Regions from separate parts of the Homo sapiens genome. Here all the other regions are linked to region 3. The links come from fine-mapping of genetic effects on gene expression. A gene starts in region 3. Each other region holds a variant in brackets. All regions are shown on one strand. Distances are between the middles of the regions.

Region 1 (8,108 bases), 47 kb before region 3:
AGCCAACTGATCTTTGACAAAGCAAACAAAAACATAAAGTGGGAAAAGGACAACCTATTCAACAAATGGTGCTGGGATAATTGGCAAGCCACATGTAGAAGAATAAAACTGGATCCTCATCTCTCATCTTATACAAAAATCAACTCAAGATGGATCTAAGACTTAAATCTAAGATCTAAGACCTAAAACTATAAACAAAAACCCAGAGTGGGAGGAAATTTTCAAAATTTATACATCTGACAAAGGACTAAGATCCAGAATCTACAATGAACTCAAACAAATTAGCATGGAAAAAACAATCTCACCGAAAAGTGTGCTAAAAACACGAAAAGACAATTCTCAAAAGAAGATATAAAAATGGCCAGCAAACATATGAAAAAATGCTCAACATCACTAATAATCAGGGAAATGCAAATCCCAACTACAATGTGATACTACCTTACTCCCACAAGAATTGCCATAATCAAATAATCAAAAAATAATAAATGTTGGTGTGGATGCAGTGAAAAGGGAACACTTCTACACTGCTGGTGGGAATGTAAACTAGCACAACCACTATGAAAAAGAGTGTGGAGATTCCTTAAAGAACTAAAGGTAGAACTACCATTTGATCCAACAATCCCACTATTGGGTGTCTACCCGGAGCAAAAAGTTATTATACAAAAAAGATACTTGCACATGTATGTTTATAGCAGAATGATTTGCAATTGCAAAAATGTGAAACAAACCTAAATGCCCATCAATCAACGAGCAAATAAACTGTAGTATATATATGATGGAATACTACTTACCTATAAAAAGGAAAGAATTAATGTAATTCACAGCAGCCTGGATAGGACTGAAGATTATTATTCTAAGTGAAGTAACTCAGGAATGGAAAACCAAACATTGTATGTTCTCACTCATAAGTTGGAGCTAAGTTATGAGGATGCAAAGGCATAAAAATGACACAGTGGATGGTGGAGACTCAGAGAGGAGTGTTGGGAAGGAGGTGAGAGATAAAAGACTACAAATTGGGTTAATTATACACTGCTCAGGTGATGGGTGCACCAAAATCTCACAAATCACCACTAACAAATTTACTCAGCCAGGCACGGTGGCTCACGCCTGTAATCCCAACACTTTGGGAGGCCGAGGCGGGCAGATCACGAGGTCAGGGGTTCGAGACCAGCCTGACCAACATGGTGAAACCCCGTCTCTTCTAAAAATACAAAAATTAGCTGAGCGAGGTGGCTTGCACCTGTAATCTCAGCTACTCAGGAAGCTGAGGCAGGAGAATCACTTGAACCCGGGAGGCAGAGGTTGCAGTGAGCAGAGATTGTGCCAGTGTACTCCAGCCTGGGTGACACAGCAAGACTCTGTCTCATAAAAACAAAACAAAACAAAACAAAACAAAAAAACACATAAAACTTACTCATGTAACTGAATACCACCTGTTCCTCGAAACCTATGGAAATTAAAAAAAAATAAAAAATTAAAAAGAGTGAAAGGGACCTCAGGGCTCATCCAGCCTCACCTTTCTCATTTTGCGGATGCAGAAGAGAGGTTGTAGACAGTGCCAATCTCACATAGCCTTTCAGAGATCGACTCCAGACCTAAAATCAGACCCTCCAACCCCAAGCCCAAGTTCCCTTTTGCTATCACTGTCTCCTCAAAGAAGAATGAATCAAATTGAGAAAGGGAGTGGTAAGACCCACATCCAGACTCTATTCTTCTGGGCACTGTAGGACCTTTTCCATTCCCAGTGCTCATGTTATGCCCAAACCCTGAGAAAATGTGCCCTTTAAATCTCTGTGCACCCCTGGAACTAGCAAACATTAAAAATAATAACAACAGGTTGGGCACACAGGCTTGGGCCTGTGGTCCCAGCTAGTTGGGAGAGTGAAGAGGGAGGACATCTTAAGCCCAGGAGTTCTAGGCTGCAGTGACTTTTTAAAAACTTAACCTTGGCCAGCGCAGTGGCTCAGGCCTGTAATCCCAGCACTTTGGGAGGTCAAGGCGGGCAGATCACAAAGTCAAGAGATTTGAGACCAGCCTGGCCAACATGGTGAAACCCTGTGTCTACTAAAAATACAAAAATTAGCTGGGCATGGTGGCGCACACCAGTAGTCCCAGCTACTCAGGAGGCTGAGGCAGGAGATCTCTTGGACTGGGGAGGTGAAGGACGCAGTGAGCCAAGGTCACACCACTGCACTCCAGCCTGGTGACAGCGAAACTCCATCTCAAAAAACAAAAAAATAAAAAAAATAAACTAACCTCAAAATTCCAGGGAATCAAAAGAGAAATAGGTAAGTCAGATTAGTTCAAATTAAAAAGCTGCTGCATGGAATCTGATACAATCAACAAAATGAGACAACTAAAAAAATGGAGAAAATATTTGCAAATCATTCATGTGACAAGGGGTTAATATCAAAAATATATAAGAAACTCAAATGACTATATGACAAAAGACTATTAAAAAGAATGAAAGGCTTAAATATTTTTCAAGACATACATATGGTCAAGAGACACATAAAAATGCTCAATATCAGTTATTATCAGGGAAAGGAAAGCAAAAAAAACTATATCAACTTATTTCTGTTAGAATTACTCCTATTTTAAAAATGTGTTAGTCAAGGTGTGAAAAAATGGCAATGCTTGCACACTGATGGTTTGAATGTGAATGAGGACAGTCATTACAAAAAACAAAATAAGGATTTCTCAAAAAAATTTAAAATTAAACCACCAAATACAGCAATTTTATTATTGGTTATACATCCAAAACAAACGAAATCAGAATGAAGAAACATGTGCCTGTTTTTTACAACACTCTTCACAATTACCAAAATATAAAATCAGTGGTTTCAACATTTAATGAGTAAATAAAGACAATGTGGTATATACACACAATGGAATACTATTCATCTTTAAAGAAGGAAATTTTATTATTTTCAATCACACGAATTAACCTGGAGGAAAACATTATATTTGTCGAAATGAGCCAGGCACAAAGATTATTATTTCATGATTTCACTTACAAAGGGATTCTAAAAAACTTAATCTTATTGAAGTAAAGTGGTGGCCACCAGACACAAGTTATTTAGGAGAAAGGAGGGTTTGAAAAGATGTTGATCAAAAAATACATAATTATAGTTAATAGAATAAGTTCAAGAGATTGTTTTGTACAGCATAGTGACTATAGATCAAAATAATGTATTTGTAGTTTTGAAAAATGCTGACAATGTCACATGCTCTTGCCACAAAAATGTTAACTATGTGAGGTAACTACCTAGAATTAAGCATTTGACAATGTATATATACTTCCAAGTATTATGTTTTACAAAATAAATACACATTTACTTATTTATTACAGATGGTGATGACATGGAAGACACTAAAAGGGAAGGTGTTGCTTACAGACTTATGACTGGCCACTCTGGGAACACAATGAACAAGTTTGCATAAAAAGTAACACAAAATAATCTAAAAGTTGCCATCATCTCCAGAATTTTTCCAGAGAAAATGACCAAGAAGTTGACGACAGGTGACTAAGAATATAAACTGTACACTGACCTTCACTCACTAAAAAGACACATAAAATAACAGGGTGAAATTCCTCTGAGTTGTAATATCAATATGGACAAGAAATATTATTCCAAATTTCAAATCCACAGAGGTCATTTTATTATTTTGCAACCTTTAACATTCACACTTAAAAATAAAAGATTCAGCAGGGCACAGTGGCTCACGCCTATAATCCCAGCACTTTGGGAGGCAGAGGAGGGCAGATCACGAGGTCAGGAGTTCGAGACCAGCCTGGCCAACATGGTGAAACCACGTCTGTACTAAAAATACAAAAATTAGCTGGGTGTAGTGGCAGGCACCTGCAATCCCAGCTACTAGGGAGGCTGAGGCAGGAGCATTGCTTGCACCCAAGAGGCGGAGGTTGCAGTGAGCCAAGATCACGCCACTGCACTCCAGCCTGGGTGACAGAGCAAGATTCCATTTCATAAATAAATAAATAAATCTGTGTTGTGCTATATCATAGAACATTAAATTTAAAATTCCTCACCACTAACTCTTAATAATTTAATTTCTAAGATGCATTTTCTAGCAAATATTAAATGTGTCACACTCTGTGTAAGAATTTAATAAGATTTTC[C/T]GTTTACAAACAGAAAAACAATGCTAAGTTATTTAATCCTCTGATCTATGGACAGTGTATGCGTTTTATCTTAATTAACTGATCTGAAAGTTATATTGATAAGCAAACTCTCTAACTAAAACCAATTTTTGAGTGCATTAAAAATACCAACTTTCTCATCAAAACCTACAAAGTACCATGTAAAATGACATGGCATGAAGACAATGAGAAAACTGTAGCAATCACGTAGAAAAAAGGGAGAGGGGCTGTGATGAATACACAGAAGACACATAATAAGACAAACAAAACTAAAGATAATTAGGAAATAAAAGAAACAGAGTTTCTCTTTAGGTTCAGCAATATTTAGCTTCGCAGCATGAAAACAATTGTTATCTCCACGGGAAGAATCAATCTTATTTCTTCACTATTGATATTTTCCCTCTCCGACTTGAACTTACAAACTAACTCTAGCAGGAATATTTATGGCTTATCATGGAGCATCTGCTACACAGCAAGCACTGTCATGTTTGTTCGCCACATTTATATATTAAAAAACATCATGACTTATGAAGCATCCCGAGTTCTTATCTGAACAAATTGCCTCAATAAATATATTTATGTCAATTATAATGAGAACAAAAAAAGTTAAAAAATACAGGCTTATGTAGAATTCTCCAATTAAAAGAAAAAATCAAATGTCCTAATAAAATACACAATTTTGGAAATACATCTAAAAATTGTTCAGTGTGCATTAAATTTTATAAAAATCGTTATTAGTCATGACCAGCTCACGTAATGAATACCTCATAAACTATAAAAGAAAAAATCGTAAGAGACAAGAAAATTATAGGTCTAGCATGAGTACTAGGCAAGGAAAAACAGAAATTTTTCATGGGGAGATTCTGAACCCTAAGTCAGAAGATTTTACAGTAATAAATTTAAAAAAAAAGCAGAGTATAGATTTGCTTTCAGCATTTTTGAGGTTTTCAGTTTCAGTTAATAAGTCACCTTATTAAAATATTTGTTTTGTTACAATATTGCTCTATTCTTCTGAAAATAGGTACAGACTCATCCTCATATATACTCTATAATTTTCTTGCACCTAAGGTTTATTTAGAGTAACATACGTGCATAGCTAATTTTATGTAAATTAAAACTAAAATTCTGTATGTTTGCAGGCAGAGAGAGACCAAATGTTCAAAGAAAAATACATAACAAATTTTTTTAAATGTTTAAGCAGAACTCAGAATTTTAAGACTCAGGGTTTTATTTATACTTGTAAATAATTTTTATTTCACTCATAAAAATGACCCTGTAGTCAGTAGCATTTAATTGTACATTTTAAAGTAAGTAAAAGTGTAGAATGGGTTAGTAATCCAAAAGATAAATGCTAGAGTTGATGGAAACTTCATTTGCCCTTATCTGATTAATACATAAATTATATGACTGTATCAAAAAATGCCATATAATGACATAAATATAAACAGATACTATGTACACACAAAAATTGAGAAAAATAAGTTTAAATTATAAATAAAAAATTTAACCAACGGGAACGATATTCATTAATTTATTTGCAGTTTGAAGCCACTGGCAAAATAAATTATTGGAGATGTTAGTCCATTATGTTATCAAATAGTCTATTGTTACCATCTTTGACCTACACCCTTGAGTAAGGTAGGATAGGTAAAAGTTAGTGGCATAATAATACTTCATTGAATGCACAGTGGTCTTATGTTAAAATTTTTAATTAAAAAATTAAGTTTATAATAATCTAAATCTTTAAAACTGTGATTGGACTCTGGTGAAGACTCCAAGATGGCGATCGCCACCTCAGATACCCCGACTCAGCATTTCCAGGTTCACCTTTCCTGTTCCCACCACCCCGACTAACGCGCATGCCCACTAGGACGTGTCACACTCAGAAGCGCGAAACTCAACCGACCCCGCCCCTACCCCGCCCACTCCTCACCCAGCATCCATAAAAGTGCGCTGCACCTTTGGCACAGTGCGACTTCCCTGGCCCTCCCGCTGCGGACCAGTGAACCTCACCTGAGAGCTCAATAAAGAAGATTTTTGCCCTCTTTGTCTCGCCTCTCCGCCTTATTGATCCATGGTGCCCTTCCATTGCCTTTCATTGGTGCCGAAACACGGGAGGGGACACCTCCTAAGCCCCCCAGAGGCTCGGGAAGACTCCCCTCCTGGTCGGATCAGGCCTCTCCCTCAGTCAGGTCAGGCTTCTCCTCCACGGCCATCGGTCCATTTCGTCCGGTTACTTGCCGCCAGGTCACAGCTGCTGCAGCTACTCCAGTCCAATTCGGCAGACGCTGGGTGAGTACCCCTCCTTTTTCCTTTTGTCCATTCCTCCCTGGCCGAGAGTCATGCGCACACCCAGGGAGAGTTTCCTTCCTCAAGGGAAGGCCAGTCCGGGTCACCAGGAGACCCAAGTTTACTTCCCCAGGGGAAGTCCAAATCGGCATTGACGACTCAGAGACGTCTGTGTCTGAAGTAGCCGATCCGAGGCTCCAGGAGCTGCGTGGTCTGAGTGACCCCAGAAGGACGCTTCTGCTGTCCCTCAGACGGCTGCCATAAAGGGAAGAGGATGGGGTCCACCCAGTCCAAAATCACGCAAAACACCCCCTTAGGGTGCCTCCTGCGCAACCTCCCAACTTTACAACTCGACCAAGATTTAAAACGAAAGCAACTAATTTTCTTCTGCACAGTTGCCTGGCCGCAATATACCTTAGACAACCAATCTCGCTGGCCCCCCGAAGGCACACTCAACTTCAATATCCTAAACGACCTTACCAATTTTTGTCAGAGGCGAGGCAAATAGTCAAAAATCAAATTTGTTCAAAGGTTCTGGGACCTCCGCTCTCGTCAGACCGCTGCCGCCAAGTGTTTTCGCTGGCACAAGTCCCTCTGGCTAGCCTTCCCCTTGAAGTCTGACCAGCCTCTCTTGCCATTAATCTTGTCCACGGCCCCCATCTTAGTCTCTCCGCCGCCATCTCCTTCTGCACCACTGCCATCTTACTACCTGCTTCCTCACCGCCGCCATCTTACTTCCTTTTTTCTCTGCCACCATTTTAGTTCTTCTGCCGCCATTTGGCCGCCATTTTAATTCCTGTTAGTTCCCATTTGTTCTTTTAACCCTGCCCACCTAACTCCTTGGCTTCCATCTTACCCCCATTCTTATTTCCACCTCCCTGTAGTGCCATACCAGTCCACTACATCTACAACTCCTAACACATTCGCTGCGGGCAGTGATATCCGCTAATCCTGGATGAGGCAGCGGAGGGCCCCCAAACCCCTATCCAGGACTTAGTAAAGCTGGCGTTCAAAGTTTTTAATTCCCGAGAGGAGGCGGCTGAGGTACAACGACAGGCAAGACTGAAACAAAAAGTTCAGCTCCAAACCCAAGCCCTGGCAGCTGCCCTGCAACCGGCATTCCCTAAGAGCCCCAGCAGGAGAGGTAGAGGTACGATCTCCCAGGCCCCGTCTGGCACCTGCTTCAAGTGCGGCAACTCAGGACACGGCCAGCCGGTGCCCTAGCCAACAGCAACCGTCCTGCCTGCCTTGCAACTGTTTCAAGTGTGGCAATCCAGGTCATTGGGCAAAACAGTGCCCAAACCCCAAGCCGCCAACACGCCCGTGCCCTAACTGCCAACAAATGGGGCACTGGAAGTCAGACTGCCCCGGCCTCGGAGCGGCCGCTGTGTCTCCACATGGCGACCCCTCCTCGGATGGCGAAGGTGCCCTCCAGCTCCTCCAACTGGATGACGACTGAAGAGGCCCAGACTTGGGAACCCCTCTCACCCTTGCCGAGCCCAGGGTAATGCTTCAGGTAGCGGGTAAGTCCATTTCCTTTTTACTAGACACAAGGGCTACCTACTCTGTTTTGCCATCTTTTAGCAGACCCAGCCGCCCCTCCTCAATCTCTGTTATAAGGATTGATGGCATTCCCTCCACCTACCGCCAGACGCCTTCA
Region 2 (8,108 bases), 150 kb after region 3:
ATAAGGGGCTCTTCCTTCTTTGCTCAGAATTTCTCCTTCCTGCCAACTTGTAAAGAAGGTGCCTTGCTTTTCCTTTGCCTTCCACCATAATTGTAAATTTCCTGAGGCCTCTCCAGTCATGCTGAAATGTGAGTCAATTCAACCTCTTTCCTTTATAAATTACCTAGTTTTGGGCAGTTCTTTATAGCAGTATGAGAATGGACTAATAAAGTCACAATCCCCTTTTGGCCATGCCCAGGTAAAAGAGAAGAGTCACATCTTCTAGGTGATGAACAAAAATATATGACAGAATGCCCCTGTGTGTAGGCCCCATGCAGAAAAGTCACAAAACCTAGGTGTTGGCCTCAGTCCTATATCACAATATGCAATGTATGCAAGGTTCAGGCAGTAAAAGAGAGTCACATCACCTGGATCTGAGCCCAGTAATATGTCAAAATCCCTCATTGGACAAAGCCCAAACAATAGAAGAGTCATATTACCTTGGTGGTGTGCCTAATGATACGTCACAATTCTTTCTTGGTCAGAGCCCAATCAGTAGAAGAGAGTCAATTCACACAGGTTCTGGGTTCAGCAACATGTCACAATACCCTTTGAGGAGAGGGCTCATGCAGGAGAGTCACATTACCTGAGTGACAGGCCCAGATATATGTCACAATTTCCCCTTTGGGGAGGGCTCAGAAACAAAGGGAGAGTCACATAACCTAGGGGCTGGGCCCAGCTATATGTCACAATCACCCCAGTTGGCAGAGCCCAGGCATAACAGAAATGTCATATCATGTAGTTGCTTACCCAAGAGATGTGTCACAATTTTCACTGTGAATAGGTCCCAAGAAGAGTCACATTATCCAGGTGATGGACCCAGAGATATGTTACAATGTTCCCTGTTGGTAGAACTCAGAAAAAGAGGAAAATTACATAACATAAAGGCTGAGTTTAGCTATGTCAGTTATCTCAGTGGGCAGGCCCAAGGCATGAGAGAAAAATCACATCATTAGTAAGTGCAAGGCCTGGTGAAATGTCACAATACTTACCATGTACAGGACACAGGAAGAAGAGGAGAGTCACGTCATTTAGGTGATGGGCCCAGAGTTAAGTCACAATGAGTTTTGTGGGCAGGGACCAGGCAGAAGAATCACATCACCTCTCTGCTGGGCCCAGAAATAAGTCACTTTCTCTTCTGTGAGCACCATCCAGGCAGAAAAGGGAGTCACATCACCTAGGTGCTGGGCCCAGAGTTATGTCCCGCCTTGGTCTCCCAAAGTGCTGGGATTTGCCTCTCCTACAGGCAAAGCCAAGGTAAGAGAAGAGAGTAACAACAAATAGTAAATGGGCCCAGAGATATGTCACAATAGCCCCTGTGTGCAGGCTCCAGGCAGGAGACTCACATCACCTTGGTGCTGGGCCCAGCAGTACGTCACAGTGAACTTCAGAGTTCTGGGCCAAGGCAAAAGTGTAACTACACCTTGGTGTTAGGCCCAGTGATATGTCACAATCTTCCCTGTTGGTAGAACCTAGGAAAAAGAGAAGAGTCACATCAGCTAGGTGCTGGGCCCAGCAGTAGGTCACAATCTCCTCTGTAAGGACCAGGCAGGGGAAGAGAGTCATGTTGCCTGAGTGACAGGTGCAGAGGTATATAACATGATGCCCCCATTAAGCAGGACTGAGGCAGGAAAGTTACATCATTTGGGTGTTGAACGTAGCAATATGTCACGATTTTTTTTTTTTGAGACAGAGCCTTGCTCTGTTGCCCAGGCTGGAGTGAGGTGGCATGATCTCAACTCACTGCAACCTCCGCCTCCTGGGTTCAAGCAATTCTCCTTCCTCAGCCTCTTGAGTAGCTGGGATTACAGGTGCGTGCCACCATGCCCAGTTAATTTTTGTATTTTTAGTAGAGACGGAGTTTCACCATGTTGGCAAGGCTGGTCTCAAACTCCTGACCTTTTGATCCACCCACCTTGGCCTCCCAAAGTGCTGGGATTACAGGCATGAGCCACTGCACCCAGCCAATATTTTACAATTATTCCTGGGGACAGGGCACAGGCAGAAGCCATCTAGTACCAAGATGCAGAACCCAGCAACATGTCACAATACCCCTGTGAGCAGTGCCAAAGCAGGAGGGGAGGCCCACATAACCTTGGTGCAAAGCCCAGAGATATAGCAAAATGCCCCTGTGGGCAATACCAAGGCAGGAGAATAATGACACATCACGTAGGTTCTGAGTTAAGCAATATGTCGCAATTCCACCTGTTGTGCCCAGCTAGGAAAGTCAAATCACTCAGGTATTGGGCAAAGAAATATTTTACAATCACACCTGCATAAAGGTCCAGGGATAAAATGAACAATTATGTACATGTCCCGGTCCTAGGTATTAGAGTCGATACCTCCTGTATGTAAGGTCCAAGTACATGAGTCACAATTTCAACAGGTGACTGGATCCATGCTTGGGAGCCACAGTCCCTCAAGTCCACTGTATATTCTTCATAGAGTCACAGCCTCACAGGTTTGCTGAATCTTGGCCTGAGAGTCACAAACCCACCTGTGGACCAGATCCATGTATGGGAGTCAATTTTCCAACTTTTGACTGCCTCTGGTTGTGAGATTCAGGACCCCAACATTGGCTGTGTTTATGTGGTTGAATGACAGTCTTTATTGTTGGCCATGTGTGCATACAAGTGTCACAATTTTACTTGTGTGCTGGATACTGTAGGGACCCTCTCTGTTTTACTAAGGACATCACACAGTATGCATGAGAGTTGCAATCTGCTCTGAAACCTTTGTACTTGGATCCAGAGATATGTCACAATGCTCTAGGTTTATAACTGTATTTGGGCTTATAACCACTATCTTACCTGTGGTTGTAGGCACAGATATGAGACTGAATATCTCTTAAAATGACTGGTTTTAGATAGGAGGGTCTTCACCTGCCTATAAGCTCGGTTTAGAAATGAGTAACCATGGGCTGGGTGTGGTGGCTCACACCTGTAATGCCAGCACTTTGGGAGGCTGAGGCAAGTGGATTGCCTGAGGTCAGGAGTTCGAGACCAGCCTGGCTAACATGGTGAAACACCATTTCTACTAAAAATACAAAAATTAGCCAGATGTGGGGGCAGGTGGCTGTAATCCCAGCTACTGGGGAGACTGAGGCAGGAAAATTGCTTGAACCCAGGAGGTGAAGGGTGCAGTGAGCCAAGATTGCGCCATTGCACTCCAGCCGGGGTGACAAGAGCGAGACTTCGTCTCAAAAAAAAAAAAAAGAGAAAAAGAAATGAGTAAACATTCCAACTGTGGCCAGATGTTCAGATGTTCACATATGCAATCACAAATCTAACCGTGGACTGCATCCATAAGTTGGATTGAGGATGTCACCATTGGGCTCTCTTCATGTGTCAAGGTGACAGTGCTAATAGTTGGCTGGGTGTGTCTATGAAAAGAAAAATCTCCCCTGAATTTACGCTCTCTGCATCACCCAAGGGCTTTATACAATGTGGGAGAAAGTGGTAATTCTTTATGATCTTTGTACAAAGAGGAGACCCAGCATCTTACCTGTTTCCCTCAGCCTAGCTATAAGAGAGAGTATTTATTTTTACTAGCTAATTTGAGGAATGAGAGTCATCATCACACATAGAAGTTAGGCCAAGATATATGTCACAATCTCATTTGTTGGTAAGGATTGAGCAGGAGAGTCACATCAACCGGGGGCTGGGAGAGGAATATGTCACAATCTTCCATGTGGACAGAATGCAGGCTGAAGAGGGGAGTTACATCTCCTTGGTGACAGACGCAGATATATATCACAAGGCCCTATG[C/T]GTGACAATGCAGATATTTATCACAAGGCAGTGCCCAGGCAGGAACTTCCCTTTCTGAAAGTTTTGGACCCAGCAATATGTCACAATATCCAAAGTATGTGGATTTTGAGAAAAAAAGAGAGTCAAATCACAGAGGTGCTTGGTCCACTGATATGTGAGGCCCAGGAAGAAGAGGAGAGTCACATCACCTAGGTGATGAATAAAAAAATGTTTCATAATACCCCTGTGGCCAGAGCCCATGCAGAAGAGTCTCAATGGACCAAGCCATATGTCACAATACACAATATATAGAGTACCCAGGCAGAAGATGCAAGTCATGTCACCTAGGTGCTAGGCCCAGTGGTACATCACAGTCCCTTTCAGGGCATAGCTCAAGCAATAGAAAAGAGTCACATAAACTAGGTGCTGAGTTTGGCAATTTGTCACAATACCCTTTGAGGGTAGGCCCCAAGAAAAAAATTCACATCGCCTAAATAAGGGGGGCAAAGAAACCCCATCCATACTAAAAATACAAAATTAGCTGGGTGTGGTGGTGGGTGCCTGTAATCCCAGCTACTTGGGAGGCTGAGGCAGGAGAATCGCTTGAACCCTGGAGGCGGAGGTTGCGGTGAGCCAAGATGACACCATTGCACTACGTGCTGGAAAACAAGAACAAAATTCCATCTCAAAAAAAAGGAGAAAAAAAAAAGGTAGGTGTTGGGCCAAGCCATATGTCACAATCCCTGCCATGGACAGGTCCCAGAAAGAAGAGAAGAGTCTCATTATCTAGGTAATTGGCCCAGAGACATGTCACAATAACTCCTGTGGGCAGTGATCAGGCAGAAGAATCACATCACCTGTATGCTGAGCCCAGGAATAAGTCATTCTCTCTTCTGTGGAAATTGCCCAGACAAGCACAGCAAGTCATATCACCTAGGTCCTATGCCCAGAGATATGTCACAATCTTTCCTATGGGCAAGTCCCAGGCAAGAGAGGAGAGACACATTAAATAGTTGGTTGGCCCAGAGATAGGTCACAATGACCCTGTGGGGAGGTTTCAGGCAGGTTCACCTTGGTTCTGGGCTCAGCTATTTGTCACAATGTCTTCTGAGGGCAGGGCCAAGGCAAAAGAGTAACGTCACCTTGGTGCTGGGCACAGTGATATGTCACCATTTCCCTTGTGGGCAGAACCTAGAAAAAAGAGGAGAGTCACATCAGCTGGATTCTGGGCATAGCAATATGTCACAATACCCGCTGTGAGCAAAGACCAGGTAGAAGAAGACAGTGACATCATGGAGCCTCCTGCAGGCAGGGCCATGACAAGACAGTTACATTACCTGAGTGCAAGGCCTGGTGATATGTAACAATGTCTACTTTGGGCAGTGCCAAAGCAGAAGAGAAGACTCACATCACCTGGGTGCAAGGCCCGGTGATATGTCACAATGCCCACTGTGGGCAGTGCTGAGACAGGAGACTAGATCACATTACCTAGGGGCCAGGTCCAGCAACATGGCACATTTTGAACTGTGGGCCGGGCCCAGGCAAGAGAGTCAAATCACTTAAGAGCTGGGCAGAGACTTATTTAACTATCACACCTGTAGGAAGGTGCAGGGATGGTATTAACAAGCCCACACATGTCCGGGTTCTAGGTATGAAAGTCAGCACCTCTTGTATGTTGGGTTTAAGTACATGAGTCACCATCTCAGCAGTGGACTGGATCAGTGCATGGGAGCCTCAATCTTTCCTGCAGACTATCTCACCTTAGTAGAGTCCCAGCCTCACAGGTTTGCTGAATCTTAGCCTGAGAGTCACCAGAACACTTGTGGACCTGATCCACATATGAGAGTCAATTTTCCAACTTTTGACTGCCTCCAGGTGTGAGTTTCAGAATCTCAACAGTGGGCTGTGTTCACGGGAAATGATAACAATCTTTACTGTCAGCAGGGTGTGATATGGGTGTACGGTCAATCCTCTTGGGAGAGATTGACCCAACATACAAGATATGTTGACACTCCCACCTAGAACTAGAACATGTGTGGGATTGTGATCTTATTCCTGGACCTTCCTGCAAGTGTGATTGTGACATACACCTTTACCCAGCACCTAAGTGGTTCGACTTTGCTGCCTGGAGTGAACTCACAGATAAAATTGTGACATATTGCTCGACCCTGCACCTTGGTGGTGTGACTCTACTCTCAAGCCTTGTCATTGCCCACATGAAGAATTATGACATACTGCTGGGTCTTGCACCCAAGTTATGTGAGTCTTTTCTTCTGCCTTGGTGTTGTATACAGGGAGCATTATGATATATTGCTGCATCCTGTGTCAAGGATTTGTGGCTCTTCTGCCTGTGCCTTGCCCACATGGGCCAATGGGACATACTGCTGAGTCTAACACTTAGGTAATGTAACTCTCCTGCCTGGGCACTGCTTACGGGAAACATTGTGACATATTTGTGTACCTATCAACCAGGTTACATAAATCTCTTCTCCTTCCTGATTCCTGACACTTAGGTAATGAAACTTCCCTGCCTGGGAACTTCTTACAGAGGACATTGTGATATATGTGTGTACCCATCAACCAGGTTACATAAATCTCTTCCCCTTCCTGATTCATGCTAACAGAGGGGATTGTGGCTCTTCTATTGTTTTTAGGTTCTGTCTTCAGGGAAAATTGTGACATACCACTGGACCCAACACTAACAGGATGTTACCGTTTCGCTTTGGCCCTGACCTGGAAAGGCATTCAGCCCTATTGCTGGGCCTAGCACAAAAATCATGTGGCTCTTTTGCCTGGAGACACATTGTGACATATCTCAAACTTATCAACTATTTGATGTGACTCTCTATTCTTACTTGCACTTTGCTTTTGAAAGATTCTGACATATCTCTGTCTCTGGGTCCTCTCCTTCTGGACAAACCCCCTCAGAAAAAAAAAAAAGTGACTTATTGCTGACCTCAGCACACAAGTGATGTAATTCTTCTGCCTGGTCCCTGCCCACAGAGAGCACTGCAACGTATTTTTTAGTCTATAAACTTTTGATGTAACTTTCCTCTTTTACCTTAATCCTCCACATGGTCCCTGCCCACCCAGGGCATTTTGACATATCTCTAGGCCCCTCAACTATTGGATATGATGCTCTTTTCACATCTGAGCTTTGCCAAAAAGTGAGATTCTGATATATACCTGTGGGCTCAGCACCTAAATAATATGACTCCTCCTTTGCCTGGGTCCTGTATTCATTGTGTGTTATGACATATGGCTGAGTCCAATACCTACATGATGTGACTCTCCTGCCTGGGTTTTGCCCACAGGGTACTTTAAAATATCTTTTTCTTTATTACCTATGTGATGTGACTCTCTTATTCCACCAGAGCCCTGCCAAATAGAAGGATTGTGACATATCACTGAACACAGCACCTAGGTGATGTGACTCTCTCCTTTTGCCTGGGCCTCACATATTTTGGGTATCGTAACAAATTGCTGGGCCCCACCACTGGGAGATGGGAGGCTTGTGCATGGATCCTGCCTATGTGGGGACCTTTTGATACTTATCTGCATCTATCACTTAGAAGATATGACTTTCCTACCTGCACCCTGCCCACAAGGAAGATTGGGAACTATCACTAGGCCATGCGTCCAGGTTATGTAACTCGGCTGCCCGTGTTCTGCTTTCAGGAGGGAATTGTCACAATCTCTTCTACAGGCAATGCCCAGGTAAGAGTAGAGAGTTACATCAAGTAGTTGACAGGCCCAGAGATATGTCACAATGTCCCCTGTGGACAGAGTTCAGGAAAGAGACTCACATCACGTTGGTGCTGGGTCCAGCAATATGTCACAATGCCTTCTGAGGGCAAGGCCAAGCCAAAGAGAAAAGAGCAATGTCACTTTGGTGCTTGGCCCAGTGGTATTTTACAATCCCCCACATGAGCAGTGATCAGGCAAAACGAGAGTGTCATATCACCTGCGAGATGTGCATAGAGATATGTCACAGTGCCCCCTGTAGTCAGGGTCTAAGCAGGAGAGTTACATTACCTGGGTTTTGGACTAAATAACATGTTATAATGCCTTATGTGGGCAGGGAACAGGCAGAAGAATCACATACCTTGGGTGTGGAGCCCAGTGATATGTCACAGTGCCCCCTATGGGCAGTGCCTAGGTAGGAGAGGAAATTCACATCACCTGGTTACTGGCCTAAAAAATCTGTCACGATTTTTTTTTCGTGGCCAGGGTTCAGGCAGAATGAAGAGTTACATCTCCTAGGTGATAAATGCAGAAATATGTCAAAAGGCCCCCTGTGGACAGGGCCCAAGCAGAAGCCTC
Region 3 (8,108 bases):
AAAATTCATATGAAACCAACAAAGAGCCTGAATAGCCAAGGCAATTCTAAGCAAAAAGAACAAAGCTGGGCATTACATTATCCAACTTGAAACTATTCTATAAGGCTGTAACCAAAGCAGCATGGTAGTGATTAAAAAAAAAAAAAAAAGGCTCATAGAACAATGCAACAGAATAGAGCCAAGAAATAATGCCACACATCTACAACCATCTGACCATCTGATCATCAAAAAAGCTGACAAGATCAATGTAGGAAGAATTTCCTTTTTTTTTTTTTTTTGAGTCGGAGTTTCACTCTTGTTGCCCAGGCTGGAGTGCAATGGCTCAATCTCGGCTCACCACAACCTCCGCCTCCAGGTTCAAGCGTTTCTCCTGTCTCAGCCTCCTGAGTAGCTGGGATTACAGGCATGGGCCACCATGTCCGACTATTTTTTTTGTAGGGTTTCTCCATGTTGGTCAGGCTGGTCTCAAACTCCCGACCTCAGGTGATCCACCCGCCTTGGCCTCCCAAAGAGCTGGGATTACAGGCGTAAGCCACCATGCCCGGCCAGAATTCCCTATTTAATAAAATGGTACTGGAATAACTAGCTAGCACTATGTATAAGATTTTCTTTTTTGTATTTAAAAAAATAGCCGAATTTTTCTTCAGCGGTCAAATAAAATACTTCTTAATCAAAATATAGTTAAGTTTATCTCCTTCCCACAGCTCCTGAACTTTGAGCTACTCAGTCTGAGCCAACATACAACCCCATTTTATGTTTCTCCTAAAAACTTGCTGACTTCAGGGTAAAACATTTTCTAATCTAAAATCTGATTTGGGCTGAGCGTGGTGGCTCACGCCTGTAATCCCAGCACTTTGAGAGGCTGAGAAGAGCAGATCACCTGAGGTCAGGAGTTTGAGACCACCCTGGCCAATATGGCAAAACCCCATTTCTAGTAAAAATACAAAAATTAGCCCGGCATGGTGGTGGGCGGCTGTAATCCCAGCTTCTCAGGAGGCTGTGGCATGACAGTCACTTGAACCCAGGAGGCAGAGGTTGCAGTGAGGTGATATCCAGCCACTGCACTCCAGCCTGGGCAACAAAGTAAGACTCTGTCTCAAAAAAATAATTTAATTAAAAAATAAAAAATAAAATCTGATTTATACACCCTCCATTTGCCATTCCCCTCTCACCTTCTAATCTTTTTTGCTCCTCCCTAAGAAAGCCTTTATCTGCCTAAACTTTGCAATCCTTAAAGATTATATAGTTGGTACTTCCTTCTGTTGCAGTATTTTAGAATTTTTTAAAAAATAAACCTAATTTTGTTTTATTTTACAAAGTCTAGAAACTGCCTCAAAACAATAACAACTTCATCCTGAGTATGACCCTCCCAATCCCCTTCCATCTTAATGTTTACTGCATCTGCCTGTGGGTCTCCAGTTTTCCAGGGCTCTGTAGCTTCTCTCAGTATAAAGGTTCTTCCATGGCTGGGGTGAGCAGGCTCCGACATCCGCAGGGGAGGCTTCCTAGAAAGAACTAACTGGGCCTTTAATAACCTCCCTTCCCTTTGTAGGCTCAATATTAGCCTTAGCTTGCAGTCACTGGCGCAAGCTTTAATTTCCATGTCGGAGTTGTTCAAATGGTTTTTTAAACTGAAAAATTCAGCAAAATTACTCAAACACAGTGTTTATATAAGGGAAGGAAATTTTAAAGCACTTACGTCACATATCTCAAATGCAAAAGTATGTAATCTTTTAAAACGATAAATAATTATTTTATTATATCCATTAAAAATGATGTAGTAAACAATTAGTCATATGGGAACACTTCTAGGATAGACCAAGTTTCATCTTAAAAAATTTAGCATTAACCTCAGAAATCAAGATGACTGGATACAGAAGAGAGGTATTCACTGAAATGTACCCTGAAAAAGGAGGAACTGATATTTTCATGAATCTGTATAACTCACCAATTATCTACCACATCTTCTTGTGGAAATGTATTCATTTTCTTTCTTTCTTTTTTCTTGAGATGGAGTCTCGCTCTGTCGCCCAAGGTGGAGTGCAGCCGCACGATCTCAGCTCACTGCAACCTCTGCCTATGGGGTTCAAATGATTCTCCCACCTCAGCCTCCCGAATAGCTGGGATTACAGGTGCCTATCACCATTCATGGCTAATTTCTAATTTTTGTATTTTTAGTAGAGATGGGGTTTCACCATGTTGGCCAGGCTGGTCTAGAACTCCTGACCTCAGGTGATCTCCCTGCCTTGGCCTCCCACAGTGCTGGGATTTCAGGCATGAGCCACCGCACCCCGCCGGAAATGTATTCGTTTTCCACAGCCAAAATGGAAGAAGTATTTTCCCTATTCTTTTCCTTGGTAGCATTCTAAAAGCTAAGCCTTGGAATACTCTTGGACATCACCCAGCCATAAAAAAACAGACCTGAGAAAATTCCTAAACTCAGTCTGGGAAAGAAAAAGGTAAATGAGAATACTTAACAAATAGAATATATGATTAGATATTTTTTTCCAAAACCCATCTCTTTCATGCCCATTCTAATTATCCTCTTACCTTTTAGTCCTACTAATAAACTGCAAGTTACAATTAAAACACTGAAGTAAGTGAACAAATCTTTTCAGGGTGACAATCCCAGGGAGTGGCAGTGCTGATTAAAAAACAGATGTATCTCACTCACATGTCAAGTCAAGCCACCCAATCACTTGAGAGATTCTCCCACCCCATCCTGCTCACTTAAGTGCTAAACGACCACCCTCTCTGAAGACCACCCTCTCTGAAGACGCTGCACTATGCCTCAGTGACTGCCCCAAGTACATTTCACTTTGCAAGTTCTTGAACCATCTCACTGGGGTAAGGTTTGATTTGTCTTTTTGGATACTATCATTTCTTTCACAAATCTTAGAGAATCCAGTGGGCCGAAATTATTTCTGTGTTCTCCCCTCAATACCAGCATATGATTGATTGACCAGCAATATGTCTCCGGAAATGGACACTGGGTTGGTTTGAAGACAATCTTAACTTCTCAAAGGGTTTGCTTTTCAAAGGAAGAGTACACCAGGAGATTCCTCTCAGCCCCAGGGCATTCACCTGCTCCCTTGAGAGGCTACACTCCAACCTCAGGTTGTCCTCTGTCTCCCATTCCCAGATAACCAGAGTTCATTCCAGGCCAGGAGCTGAAATTTACCAGAGATTCTAGCATACACAGCCACAGTGGATATTTTGATTTATCCTCAGAAAGTACTGAAACCCAGGACCAAGGAAAAAACTGAAGAGTGACTAAGGACACATTACCTTATAAAGTTTCCAAAGGGAAACCTTGACCCAAAAATATTCTGATAAGATCTCTGTACCTAGGGAAGATTTAAAAAAAAAAAAAAAGGCACAGAGATTTTTTACAATACAGCATCAGGGGATGAGTCTTTGGTTTCTTCTCATGGGAAATATTTACAAACAGATAACAAATCTTTTTTAAAATGCCATCCATGCTTTGTCAAAAAATGATTAATTAAAATACAGTATTTCAAATGTACACTAAAGGACAAATAGTTGATAATGTGAATTAGGAAGGGGAAGTTGGCATTTGGGAATGTCAGAAGGAACTGGAAATTTAGTATTTTACTGCAAGCCAGAGTTAGGCTGAAGGAATGGGAAATGGGGAGGGGGAGGAGTCTTGAGACCCTGCTTGGGACACATGTGAAAAATGAAGGGGAAGATCTGTCCCCTGTGGAGTGTGAAAATAATTAAGTGGCAGGCAATTAGACTGAGGTCGCTCCAGTCCCAGGGTTTCTGGTTTTAAAAAAATCTAACTCAAATGCATTTTTTTGTAAATTACTACCTTGTGAAAAATAAAATTCATGTTTAACCAACTGTAAACTGCCAATTAACCTCTGATTACATGACCAGGAAATTTCCTCCTTCATTGTACAAATTAAGAAACTACATAACTCTACTAACCAATTACTGAATTTGGTTTTATCATACACCTTATACAAGTGTTTCCTTCAAACCCCTCCCACGGACCACTACTGCAAACCACAGCTGGGTGCTCCACAATTCTTGAATCACTGTTTGATTAAATTAATTTTTTTGCGGTGACTTTCATAAATTTTAATAGGGGAAAAGAGGGACAGGGAAGCCCGCGGAGGAAACCTCTTCCCATTCATGAACCCAGCACCCCGAGTCAGGATTCTCCCCTGACGACCCTCCCGTCGTCTCTGCACAATCGCTGCGGGTGCAGAGCTGCTCAGAGAGGGCTCCAGGCCAGGGCACAGTCACTGCGCAGGGAGGAGACAGGACGCCTGGTTCCGGCTGTCAGCCCAGCTGCCATGCTATGGCTTAAGGGGACTGAGGGCCGAGCTGTGCCAAGAACTCGGGGCCGCGGATTTTGCAGCCGACTGCGGGAAGACCCGAGTACTGCCACAGCCACTTCCGACCGGTTCCAACCAGCTCCCTCCCCCTCTCTCGGGATGTCGGACCCAGCACTCTCACCATTTCTAGGCTTCCGGGGGATCCTGGCGTCTTAGCTGTGAATCTCCCAATAACCAGATCACAGCGCCACAGAGGCTGGGCCTCTAGGAGTAAGAGGACGCAGAAAAGTGAAGGCCAGACCTGCAGCACCCGCTGCAGCGAGACAAAGACCCCGCCGCCTCCCGGAAGACGTCATGTCCGCTCCAGCTGGGTGCCTGATTGGACCGTTCCCAGCCCGGCGTCCCTGATTGGATAACGTTTAACAACCCGCCCCCTCAGGCCCTGAGTGACAGATGTGCTCAGGTGCTGGGCTGAAGGAAGACAGAGTTAAACCTAAGCAGCAGCCTTTTCCAGAAGGGCTTCCTCCCTGAGCTGAGTCAGGCCCACCCCAGAGGGCATTTGCATTTAACCTTGTGTATAAGGTCGTATGCATTTATAAATAACATATAGCTATTCACATCTGAATATAACAATTATTTTTAAATTCCAGATTTTATAACCGTACTGGCTTCTGGTCCTTTGAGCAGGCAGCCTGAGATTTTTTTCTTTTTTTTTTTTGAGACAGAGTCTCACTCTCACCCAGGCTCAAGCACAGTGGCACGATTTCGGCTCACCCCAAACTCCGCATCTCGGGCTCAAGTGATTCTCCTGCCTTAGCCTCCTGAGTAATTGGGATTACAGGCACCCGCCTCCACGCCCGGCTACTTTTTGTATATTTAATAGAGACAGAATTTTGCCATGTTGGTCAGGCTGATCTCGAACTCCTGACCTCAGGTGATCCACCTGCCTCGGCCTCCCAAAGTGCTGGGATTACAGAGCACATGTGAATTCCAAATTTTCTAGTAGTCAAACTTTAAGAATAAACAGGTGGAATTCACTCTAATTGAGATGGTTAGTCATTTAGGCTGGGCTCAGTGAGACCATTCTTGTGACCTCAGCTGAGTTCCTTCAGACATGTATCATCAGCTGCTTGTTGACTAGGCAGCTGTGCTTCTGGGGGTGAGCTTCTGCTTCTGAGGCTGTCAACAGAGGCAACTTGCTTCTCCTCCCCATACTATTTTATCTTCCATCTGGCTAACATGGGCTTTTTTCGCGGAGATAGTAGCCTTCTGAAAGAAAAACAGAAGCATGCAAAACCATTTGAGCCTACGCCTCAAACTAGCACACTGCACTGTTCACAGGTTTTTACTGCCCTGAGCAAATAAGGCCAGCCAGATCTAGGGTTTGGAAAACAGAACTGGATCTCAATGGAAACAGCTGTAAATGCACCTGGCAATGGGCATGGATAGCGGAGGGATGAAAAATTGCTAACATTTTTGCAATCAGTATCATTCTGCCTTTTTTTGCATATGTGGTTTATATAACTCTTCCACATCAAAAAAAAAAAAATTTGTGCAAAGACCCACAGCTATTAAGTGGCTGGGCTGGGACTCAGAATTAACTCCATTTGACCCTTGAAATCCTGGAGAGTGACACTTCTAAAATAGAAGCCAGATTTCTTTTAGATTTGTGCCCATATAGCACTGTTTATTATTATTGCTAGAAATAATCTTAAGAAATTGAAGAAGCACACGGTAGCTCACATCTATAATCCTAGCACTTTGGCAAGCTGAGATGGGAGAATCACTTGCGCTCAGGAGTTCAAGTGCAGCCTGAATAACATAGTTAAGATCCTATGTGCATGAAAATTTTTTTTTTTTTAATTAGCCAGTCATGGCCGGGCGCGGTGGCTCATGCCTGTAATCCCAGCACTTTGGGAGGCCGAGGAGGGCAGATCACGAGGTCAGGAGATCGAGACCATCCTGGCTAACACGGTGAAACCCCGTCTCTACTAAAAATACAGTCCCAGCTGCTCGGGAGGCTGAGGCAGGAGAATGGCATGAACCCACGAGATGGGGCTTGCAGTGAGCCAAGATCCCACCACTGCACTCCAGCCTGGGTGACAGAGCGAGACTCCGTCTCAAAAAAAATAAAAAATAAAAATAAATAAAAATAAAAATTAGCCAGCATGAGGCAATCCTGTAGTCCCAGCTACTCAGGTGGCAGAGGCAAGAGGATTACTTGAGCCTGGAAGGTCGAGGCTGCAGTGAGCCATGATTGGTTACGACACTGCACTTCAGCCTGGGTGGTGAGAGTGTGATCCTTTCTCCAAAAAAAAAAAAAGAAAAGAAAAGAAACAGAAAAGAAAAAAGTTGCAGGAGCATTTCAAAAGGACATAGCATATGTGGAAAAAGATAGATGAGGGATGAGTTGAGAAAATCAAAGCCCAGCAACACATTACTTATTTTTTATCATAGATAAAATCTGTAAACATCTAAAAAAAAAAACAAAACCTTCAGAGAAATTGAATGTAACAGAGTCTAAATGAACAAAGAATGATTTGCAAATCAGGCAGCCTGTGGGCCCAGAATAGGCTCAGAGAGACTCCAGCACAGCAACATGGTAAAAAAATTGATCAACAGAAAAAGCAAAGTGGCATACAGAAAATGAAATTGAGGTACAGAAACAGCCAAATTGATTACAGCTTGGGATTTGCCTTATTTGAACATGGTTTGAAGAGTTGATGTCCTTTTATTGGCAAAATCACAGTGGCTGGTACAGGAATGGGTTATAATCTACTTACATATCCAGTTAGGTTTCAGTTTAGTATGTACCAAAAAAAAAAAAAAAAGAAAAACAAACAAACAAAAAACCTACTGACCAAAATTAAACATGAAAACAGAGAGCTTCAGGCTATAATTTAACAATTTCTCCTTTTTGGTTATCTTCTCAATTTTGAGAGATAGACCAAGTTATCAGCTAAATAAATGGTCTCCTCATTTCAACCAAGCAGCCTGTTTCTTAAACCCCCGTAACTGAATCTCTGTAATACGTGTAATATATTTCTGTATAATCTCTATAATATATTTCTCCATGTGCAACTATGCATATTAGCAACTACACAGATACTTTTCTGTTTATGCAATAAGTAATCTCAAGAAATTCCATTATTTAGCACAACTTTAGTAAAAAAAGTCTATTGTGTAACCATAGCCTTTGCAGTAGAATCTGCTATAGAGACTATTATGAAGGATAAATGTCTAACCAATGCCTGATTTTTTTACCCTGAACCATGAAAAAAAAAAAAAAAAAAAGACCTAACAAATGATGCTTATTTAGAAGAGTAATGGCCAGGCAATGCTCTGAAACTTATTGTGAATGAGTTCTTTTTAACTTCTGAAGTAGGTTAAGAGCAGTGGACCTATATTCTGTGTTTCTGATATTATGAGGCAACAAATGTCCCATTAGAATTTCTCACCCACATTGACCCTTCATCTTGTACCTATCAAGGCATAAGTTTGTTCATATATAAAGTTGGCTGCAAAATTCTCTAGAGAATTAGATAATTAGTAGAGACGGGGTTTCACCATGTTGGCCAGGCTGGTTTCAAATGCCTGACCTCAAGTGATCCAACCGTCTCATCCTCCCAAAATGCTGGGATTACAAGCACGAGCCACTGTGCCCAACCTAATCCCAGCACTTTAAAAAGCCAAGAAACAAAGACTGTTTAAGCCTAGGAATACAAGTCCAGCCTGGGCAACATGGCAAAACCCTATGTTTACAAATAATACAAACATTAGCTGGGTATGGTGGCCCGCACTTGT
Region 4 (8,108 bases), 30 kb before region 3:
TGTAATATACAGATTTAATGCAATGTTTTCCAAATTTCTCATTGCAGTTTTCAAGAAATAGAAACAGCAACACCAAAGGTATATAAAATGTCGAGAGACAATAAAGTACTGAACAAACTTCAAAAAAAAAAAGGAACAATGTCGGAGGCAGAACAGTTTCTGATTTCAAAACATATTACAAAGCTACAGAATTAAAACAATTTGGTATGAGTACAAATGTTAAAAAGTAGACTAATAAAATAGAATGCAACATATATATACTTTCAAATATACAGTCATATGAAGAGTCATTTTTATACTCATAATTTTTGCAGAATTGTTAGTGAAAGCCAATAGGTAAAAGCAATGCAAATTTCGGTCAACAAATCATTCAGTAAATATAATTTAAAATATCACTCATTTTTCAAAAAGCAGGAAATATTGTAACAACTATAAGCATAAATCTTCATAACATGCAAAATGAAATGGGCCAGCCATGGAAAAGATTGTATTAAGATATATAAAGCAGTTACACTCTTAGAATCAGGAAACAAAATAGTGTTTGAAAACTGCCATGAAATGGAAAAAAATGGTAGTTGTTTAATGTGTAGTGAGATGTAGCTTTGCAAGGTAAAAACATCCTAGGGATATGTTGCATAACATTAAGATGACTAAACTGAATATTTAAAAATACTTGATTGTAAATTTTTTATGTGTTTTTGACAGGTAAAAATAAACAATACCTAAAAAAAAACCAGAATTATGATAGTTTTTAAATTATCTTCAAATCCAAAAGTTTTTTCTCTCAAACAAACATAATATAGGTTCACAAATAAATGTTGACATTAGGAGAATTTTTTTGACTTTTTACCTAGACAAGATTAAACAACCATTCACAATAAACCAACACCACAAATAAATAAGTTATAAAAAACACAAGGATAATATTCATAGAGGCAAACAGAGAATTATATCGGCAGTAGACATATGGTTCATATTTGACTTTGCTCCACACTGTCTTAAATTGTACAGAGATAAATATTGTCATACACAATATAAACATCAAAATACAACTGATTGGTGTGAGGTGGCATACCCTAAAATATCTAACTCACAGGTATAAAATTGCAGAAGAAAATTAAAACATGAAAGGTAAAACTTACTAGACACCATCAAGTACATCAATATATTCATGAAAGAAATCTTAGAAGAATATTGAAAAAAAAGTAATCCAGAGCTTTCTTGAAGACAAAAATGTCTGAAAACTTTCCAAATTTTGATGTAATAAAAAAAATCTAACTAATAATACTTGATTCACAATTGACTTCAAAAACAAGATAAAAATAAAGACTCTCCAAGATAAAAGGTGAGGATGTTTATTACCACTAGAACACTTCTACAAAAAAATGTTACATGGTTAATCCCAGCACTTTGGGAGGCCGAGGCGGATGGATCACGAGGTCAGGAGATCGAGACCATCCTGGCTAACACGGTGAAACCCTGTCTCTACTAAAAATACAAAAAATTAGCCAGGCGTGGTGGCGGGTGCCTGTAGTCCCAGCTACTCGGGAGGCTGAGGCAGAATGGCGTGAACCCGGGAGGCAGAGCTTGCAGTGAACCGAGATTGTGCCACTGCACTCGAGCCTGGGTGACAGAGTGAGACTCTGTCTTAAAAAAAAAAAAAAGTTTCATGGTGGCCAAGCACAGTGGCTCATCCCTGTAATTCTACAGCTTTAGGAGGCCAAGGCAGTCAGATCACTTCAAACCAGGAGTTGAAGATCAGCCTGAGCAACATAGTAAGACACTGCATATTAAAAAAAAAAAATGCTAAAATGAGTCCCTTATGCTGAAAAATGATGGACACCATTATAAAAACATTTATAAATATAAACCTCTTTATTATAAATGTATATAGACACATATTCTTTACTATAATAATGATGGTGCATAAAACCCTTAAACTTCTTCTACAGAATATGAAAAATGAGGCCAGGCACAGTGGCTCACACCTGTAATCCCAGCACTTTGGGAGGCCGAGGCAGGTGGACTGCTTGAGGCCAGAAGTTTGAGACTAGCCTGGCCAACATGGCAAAACCTTGTCTATACTAAAAATACAAAAATTAGCTGGCAATTATGGTGTGTGCCTTTAATGCCAGCTACTTGGGAGGCTGAGGCACAAGAATTGTTTGAACCTGGAAGGCAGAAGTTACAGTGAACCGAGATAACACCATTGCACTCCAGCCTTGGGTGCAATGAAACTCTGTGAAGACAGTGAAACTCTGTCTAAAAAAAAATTTTAAAAAAAGGTTAAATGAAATATTAATATATTAATAAATACACACATTTAAAAAATTAAGGCCAGGCTGGGTGGCTCACACCTGTAATCTCAGCACTTTGGGAAGCCGAGGCGGGCAGATCACCTGAGGTCAGGAGTTTGAGACCCGCCTGACCAACATGGAGAAACCCCGTCTCTACTAAAAATACAAAAAATTAGCCGGGCATGGTGGTGCATGCCTGTAATCCCAGCTACTTGGGAGGCCAAGGCAGAAGAATCGCTTGAACCCGGGAGGCAGAGGTTGTGGTGAGACAACATCGTGCCATTGCACTCCAGCCTGGGCAACAAGAGCGAAACTCTGTCTCAATAAATAAATAAACAAATAAATAATCAAAGCACGTCACTACACAATTAAAATAAACAAAAATTAAGGCAGTAAAACAGAAAAAAAACTACAGGAAACACATAAAACAATAACAAACTAGTAACTAATTTCCTTTCTTTAAACAATCAATTTAAATATAAATTAAACTATTCAATAGGAAGAAATTAATCCTAGGGTTTTGGGAGGCCAAGGGGGGCTATTCACTTGATCCCAGAAGTTCAAGACAAGCCTGGGTAACATGGCAAAACCCTATCACTACAAAAAATACATAAATAACTAGCTGGGTGTAATGGTACTTACGTGTAAACAGCTACTTGACAGGGTGAAATAAAAGGATCATCTGAGTTTGGGAGTTTGAGGCTGCAGTGAGCCATGATCACACCACTGCAAACCAGCCTGATTGACGAAGTGTAACAGTATCTTAAAACTAAATGAATAATGGCCAGGCGCGGGGGCTCATGCCTGTAATCCCAACATTTTGGGAGGCCAAGGTGGGCAGATCACCAGGTCAGGAGATCGAGACCATCTGGCCAACATAGTGAAACCCTGTCTCTACCGAAAATACAAAAATTAGCTAGGCATGGCAGCAAGCACCTGTAGTCCCAGCTCCTCAGAAGGCTGAGGCAGGGGAATCGCTTGAACCCGGGAAGCAGAGGTTGCAGTGAACCGAGATTGTGCCACTGCACTCCAGCTTGGCGACAGAGCAATACTCTGTCTCAAAAAAAAAAAAAAAGTTAATAAATAAATAGCAAAAAAAAGAAAAAGAAAAAGAAAATGCCCGAGTGGCTTAAGAAAAAAGCATACAATCCC[G/A]GGTGCGGTGGCTCAGGCCTGTAATCCCAGCACTTTGGGAGGCCAAGGTGGGCAGATCACGAGGTCAGAAATCCAGACCATCCTGGCTAACACGGTGAGACTCCGTCTCTACTAAAAATACAAAAAATTAGCCGGCCCTGTTGGCGGGCGCCTGTAGTCCCAGCTACTTGGGAGGCTGAGGCAGAAGAATGGCGTGAACCCGGGAGGCAGAGCTTGCAGTGAGCCGAGATCGCGCCACTGCACTCCAGCCTGGGCGACAGTGCGAGACTCCGTCTCAAAAAAAAAAAAAAAAAAAAAAAAAAAAAAAAAAAAGAGCATACAACATGCGGCCTACAAGAGACTCATTTTAGGCCTGGCACAGTGGCTCACACTTGAAATTCCAGCACTTTGGGAGGCTGAAACCAGCCTGGCCAAAGTGGTAAAACCCTATCTCTACTAAAAAAATTAAAATACAAAAGTTAGCCAGGTGAGGTGGTGCATGCCTATAATCCCAGCTACTTGAGAAACTGAGGCAGGAGAACTGCTTGAACCCAGGAGACAGAGGTTGCATTGAGCCAGCCTGGGTGACAGAGCAAGACTGTATCTCAAAAAAAAAAAAAGAGACTCATAAGCGTTGAGTCAAATAGGCTGAAAGTATCAGAATGGAAAATATCTTTATTCTATGCAAATAGTAACCACAATTGCGTGAGGAAGTCATAATTATATTAAACATAATATGCTTTAAGTCCAGTACTAGCAAGAGACAAAAACTGATATTATGTAATACTAAAATGGGTAAATTTATCAAGAATTTATAACTATTATATTTGTCTATGTATGTGCATGTACAACATCAGGGCTCCAATATGTAGAAAGCAAATATTGACAAAAGTCAAGTAAGAAATACATAGCAACATAATAATTGCAGAAATCAAGACCCCATTTTCAATAATAAATAGAAAGTTCAGATAAAAAATCAAGAGAAAACAGAAAACTTAGACAACATTATAGACTATATTAATTATTTTGCATACACAGGAATACCCGAGTAGATAATCTGTAAAGAAAAAAGGTTTATTTGCTCACAGTTTGGCAGACTGTACAAGAAGTGTGTGTCAGCATCTGCTTCTGGTGAGAGCCTCAGGAAGCTTACAATCATGGTGGAAGGCAAAGAGTAACTGGACATGTGACATGGTAAGGGACAGGAATTGTGGGGTAAAGAAGCTAGGTTCTTTCAATGAACCAGCTCTCATGTGAATTAAGTGTAAATTTTTTTATTACCAAGAGGATGGTGTCACGCCATTCATGAAAAATTTGCCCCCATGACCCAAACACTTCCCTAGGTCCCACCTCCAACACTGAGGATTATATTGCAGCATGAGGTTTGGAGAACATGGACATCCAAACCATATTACAGACCAACTAGGCTTAACAGTTATGTGCAAACTTTCCAGTCAAAAGCAAGAGAATACAGAATATTCTTATCTGCATCTGGTGTATTCTGTTATAAATCATACCAAGCCGTATTAAATTTATTTATTTATTTTTTTGAGGTGGAGTCTCAATCTGTCACCCAGGCTGGAGTGCAGTGGCACGATCTCAGCTCACTGCAACCTCTGCTTCCGGTGTTCAAGTGATTCTTCTGCCTCAGCCTCCAGAGTAGCTGGGACTACAGGCGCGTGCCACCACGCCCAGCTAATTTTTGTATTTTTAGTAGAGATGAGGTTTCACCATATTGGCCAGGCTGGGCTCAAACTCCTGACCTCGTGATCCACCCGCCTCAGCCTCTCAAAGTGCTGGGATTATAGGTGTGAACTGCTGCGCCCAGCTGCCTCATTAAATTTAAGAATACCAGCTGGGTGCAGTGGTTCATGCCTATAATCGCAACACTTTGGGGGACCAAGGTGGGAGGATCATTGAAGCCAGAAGTTTGAGACCAGCCTGGGCAACATAGTGATGTCTTGTCCCTACAAATAATCAAAAAATTAGTTGAACATGGTAGTGCATGTCTGTAGTCACAGCTACTCAGGAGGCTGAGGTTGAAGGATCACTTGAGCCCAGGAGGCTGAGGCTGCAGTGAGCCAAAAGTATGCCACTGCACTCCAGCCTGGGTGACATAGTAAGATCCCATCTCAAAACAGCAACAAATGCATTTAAAACCAAAATCATACACTGTGTGTTTTCTGACCAAAACTGAATAAACCTAGGAATTAAAAGCAAAAGTAGAACTGGAAAATCTAAAAATATATAAAAATAAAACATACTCTTCAACATATTCTTGCTCAAGGGTCAAAAAATTTAATTTTTCAGCCAGGCGCAGTGGCTCATGCCTGTAATCCCAGCATTTTGGGAGGCCGAGGTGGGCGGATCACCTGAGGTCGGGAGTTCAAGACCAGCCTGACCAACATGGAGAAACCCCGTCTCTACTAAAAATACAAAATTAGACGGGCGTGGTGGTGCATGTCTGTAATCTCAGCTACTCAGGAGGCTGAGGCAGGAGAATCACTTGAACCAGGGAGGAGGAGGTTGCAGTGGGCCAAGATCGTGCCATTACACTCTAGCCTGGGCAACAAGAGTGAAACTTTGTCTCAAAAAAAAAAAAAAATAAAAAAATTAATTTTTCAAAGATGTCAATACAACATACAGCGGTAAACAAATTCAACATAATCTCTAACAAAATTCTAATAGCGCAATCTTTTTACAGAAATAGTTTAAAATTTTTAAATTTGATTAAAAACTATAGCAAAACATCCATTAAAAAGAAGATGCATTATACTTTCTGATTTCAAAACATAATAAAAGCTACAGTAACAAAAACAATGTGGTATTGACACAAAAATAGATAAACAGATGAAAGAACAAGACAGCCCAGAAATGAACCCTTCTATATATGATCAAATGATCTTCCACAAAGTTGCCATGAGCACACAATAGAGAAAAGATCGTCTCTTGGAAAAGTAATGTTGAAAATTGGATAACACTGATAAATTAAGTTGGATCATTTTCTCGAACCACATACAAAAAATATTTTTTTAAAAAAAATGTTTAGACCTAAAAAATCACTGTTAATCTCTTAGAAATGAATGTAAGAAAAAAACATGACATTGATCTTGGCATTACTTTCTTAGACACAACATTAAATGCATGTGAAACAAAGAAAAGAACAGAAAAATTGAACTACACTAGACTTCAATATCTCTGCACATTAAATACAGCATTCAATAGAGTGATAAGGTCTCCTAGAAAATGGGTGAAAATATTTGCAAATTGGCCAGGCACGGTGGCTCACGCCTGTAATCCCAGCACTTTGGGAGGCCAAGGTGGGTGGATCTTGAGGTCAGGAGATCGAGACCATCTTGGCTAACACGGTGAAACCCCATCTCTACTAAAAATACAAAAAAATTAGCCAGGCGTGGTGGTGGTCACCTGTGGTCCCAGCTACTCGGGAGGCAGAGACAGAAGAATGGCGTGAACCCAGGAGGCAGAGCTTGCAGTGAGCTGAGATCGCGCCACTGCACTCCAGCCTGGGTGACGGAGCCAGACTCTGTCTCAAAAAAAAAAAAAAAAAAAAAGACAATATTTGCAAATCACATGTGATAGGAGTTATATTCAGAATACATAAACAACTCTTAAAACCAAATAAAGAGCAGCATGATGGCTCATGCCTGTAATCCCAACACTTTGGGAGGCCAAGGCAGGAGGATCACGAGGTCAGTAGTTGGAGACCAGCCTGGCCAACATGGTGAAACCCTGTCTCCACTAAAAATACAAAAATTAGCCAGGCGTGGTGGCACCTGCCTGTAATCCCAGCTACTCAGGAGGCTGAGGCATGAGAATCACTTGAACCCGGGAGGTGGAGGTTGCAGTGAGCTGAGATCATGCCACTGCACTCTAGCCTGGGCAACAAAGTGAGACTGTGTCTCGAAAACAAACAAACAAAAAGAATATAAAGTTGAATAACTTGATTTAGAAATGAACAAATAATTGAAGTAAATTTTCATTAAAAATGATACACAAATGGAAAAAGCATTTGAAAAAACACACTAAATTAATATTTGTAGAGAAATGCATAATAATTACAATAAAAAACAATTACCTAGGCTGGGCACCGTGGCTCACACCTATAATCCCAGCACTTTGGGAGGCTGAGGTGGGTGGATCACAATGTCACGAGATCAAGACCATCCTAGCTAACACAGTGAAACTCCGTCTCTATTAAAAATACAAAAAATTAGCCGGGCGTGGTGGCAAGCGCCTGTAGTCCCAGCTACTCAGGAGGCTGAGGCAGGAGAATGGCGTGAACCCAGGAGGTGGAGGTTGCAGCGAGCCGAGATTGCACCACTGCACTCCAGCCTGGGCGACGGAGCCAGACTCCGTCCCAAAAACAAACAAACAAACAAACAAACAAAAAACAAAACAAAACAAAAAAACCAAAAACAAAACAAAAAAAAACAATCACCTCACACCAATTAGAATGGCCATCATCAATTTTTTTTAAAAACACCAAATCTGTTGATAATGCAATAAAAATAAACTCCATGTTGATTGTTGGTGGAAAACAAGAATGCAGTCATTATTTTAAAATTTTATAAATGTTTCTCAAGTAATTATAAATAAAATTATGGGCTGGGTGCAGTGGCTCACGCCTGTAATCTCAACACTTTAGGAGGCCAAGGCAAG

Evidence for each region.
Region 1: its variant is fine-mapped to the expression of ZNF138 in lung (TOPMed, PIP above 0.99).
Region 2: its variant is fine-mapped to the expression of ZNF138 in whole blood (TOPMed, PIP above 0.99).
Region 4: its variant is fine-mapped to the expression of ZNF138 in whole blood (TOPMed, PIP 0.93).

Annotation. Positions count from the first base shown.
Region 1 is chr7:64,837,962-64,846,069 of GRCh38, reverse strand. It overlaps a transcript of ZNF138 not described here. Among named protein-coding and RNA genes, the nearest start is that of ZNF138, 48 kb to the right of the region's middle. The variant C/T (reference allele first, on the strand shown) is at 4,142.
Region 2 is chr7:64,636,355-64,644,462 of GRCh38, reverse strand. LOC124901656 (a long non-coding RNA gene) reads right to left here. Exons shown (of 7, transcript XR_007060350.1): 4 at 4,857-4,976; 5 at 1,032-1,511; 6 at 790-893. Among named protein-coding and RNA genes, the nearest start is that of ZNF107, 26 kb to the left of the region's middle. The variant C/T (reference allele first, on the strand shown) is at 3,807.
Region 3 is chr7:64,790,949-64,799,056 of GRCh38, reverse strand. It overlaps ZNF138 (zinc finger protein 138), which reads right to left and starts at 4,629. Exons shown (of 4, transcript NM_001271639.2): 1 at 4,486-4,629. The coding sequence starts at 4,488. RefSeq lists enhancers at 4,029-4,589, 4,374-4,613, 4,854-4,903.
Region 4 is chr7:64,820,808-64,828,915 of GRCh38, reverse strand. The region is part of intron 3 of ZNF138 (zinc finger protein 138); the gene reads right to left. Among named protein-coding and RNA genes, the nearest start is that of ZNF138, 30 kb to the right of the region's middle. The variant G/A (reference allele first, on the strand shown) is at 3,450.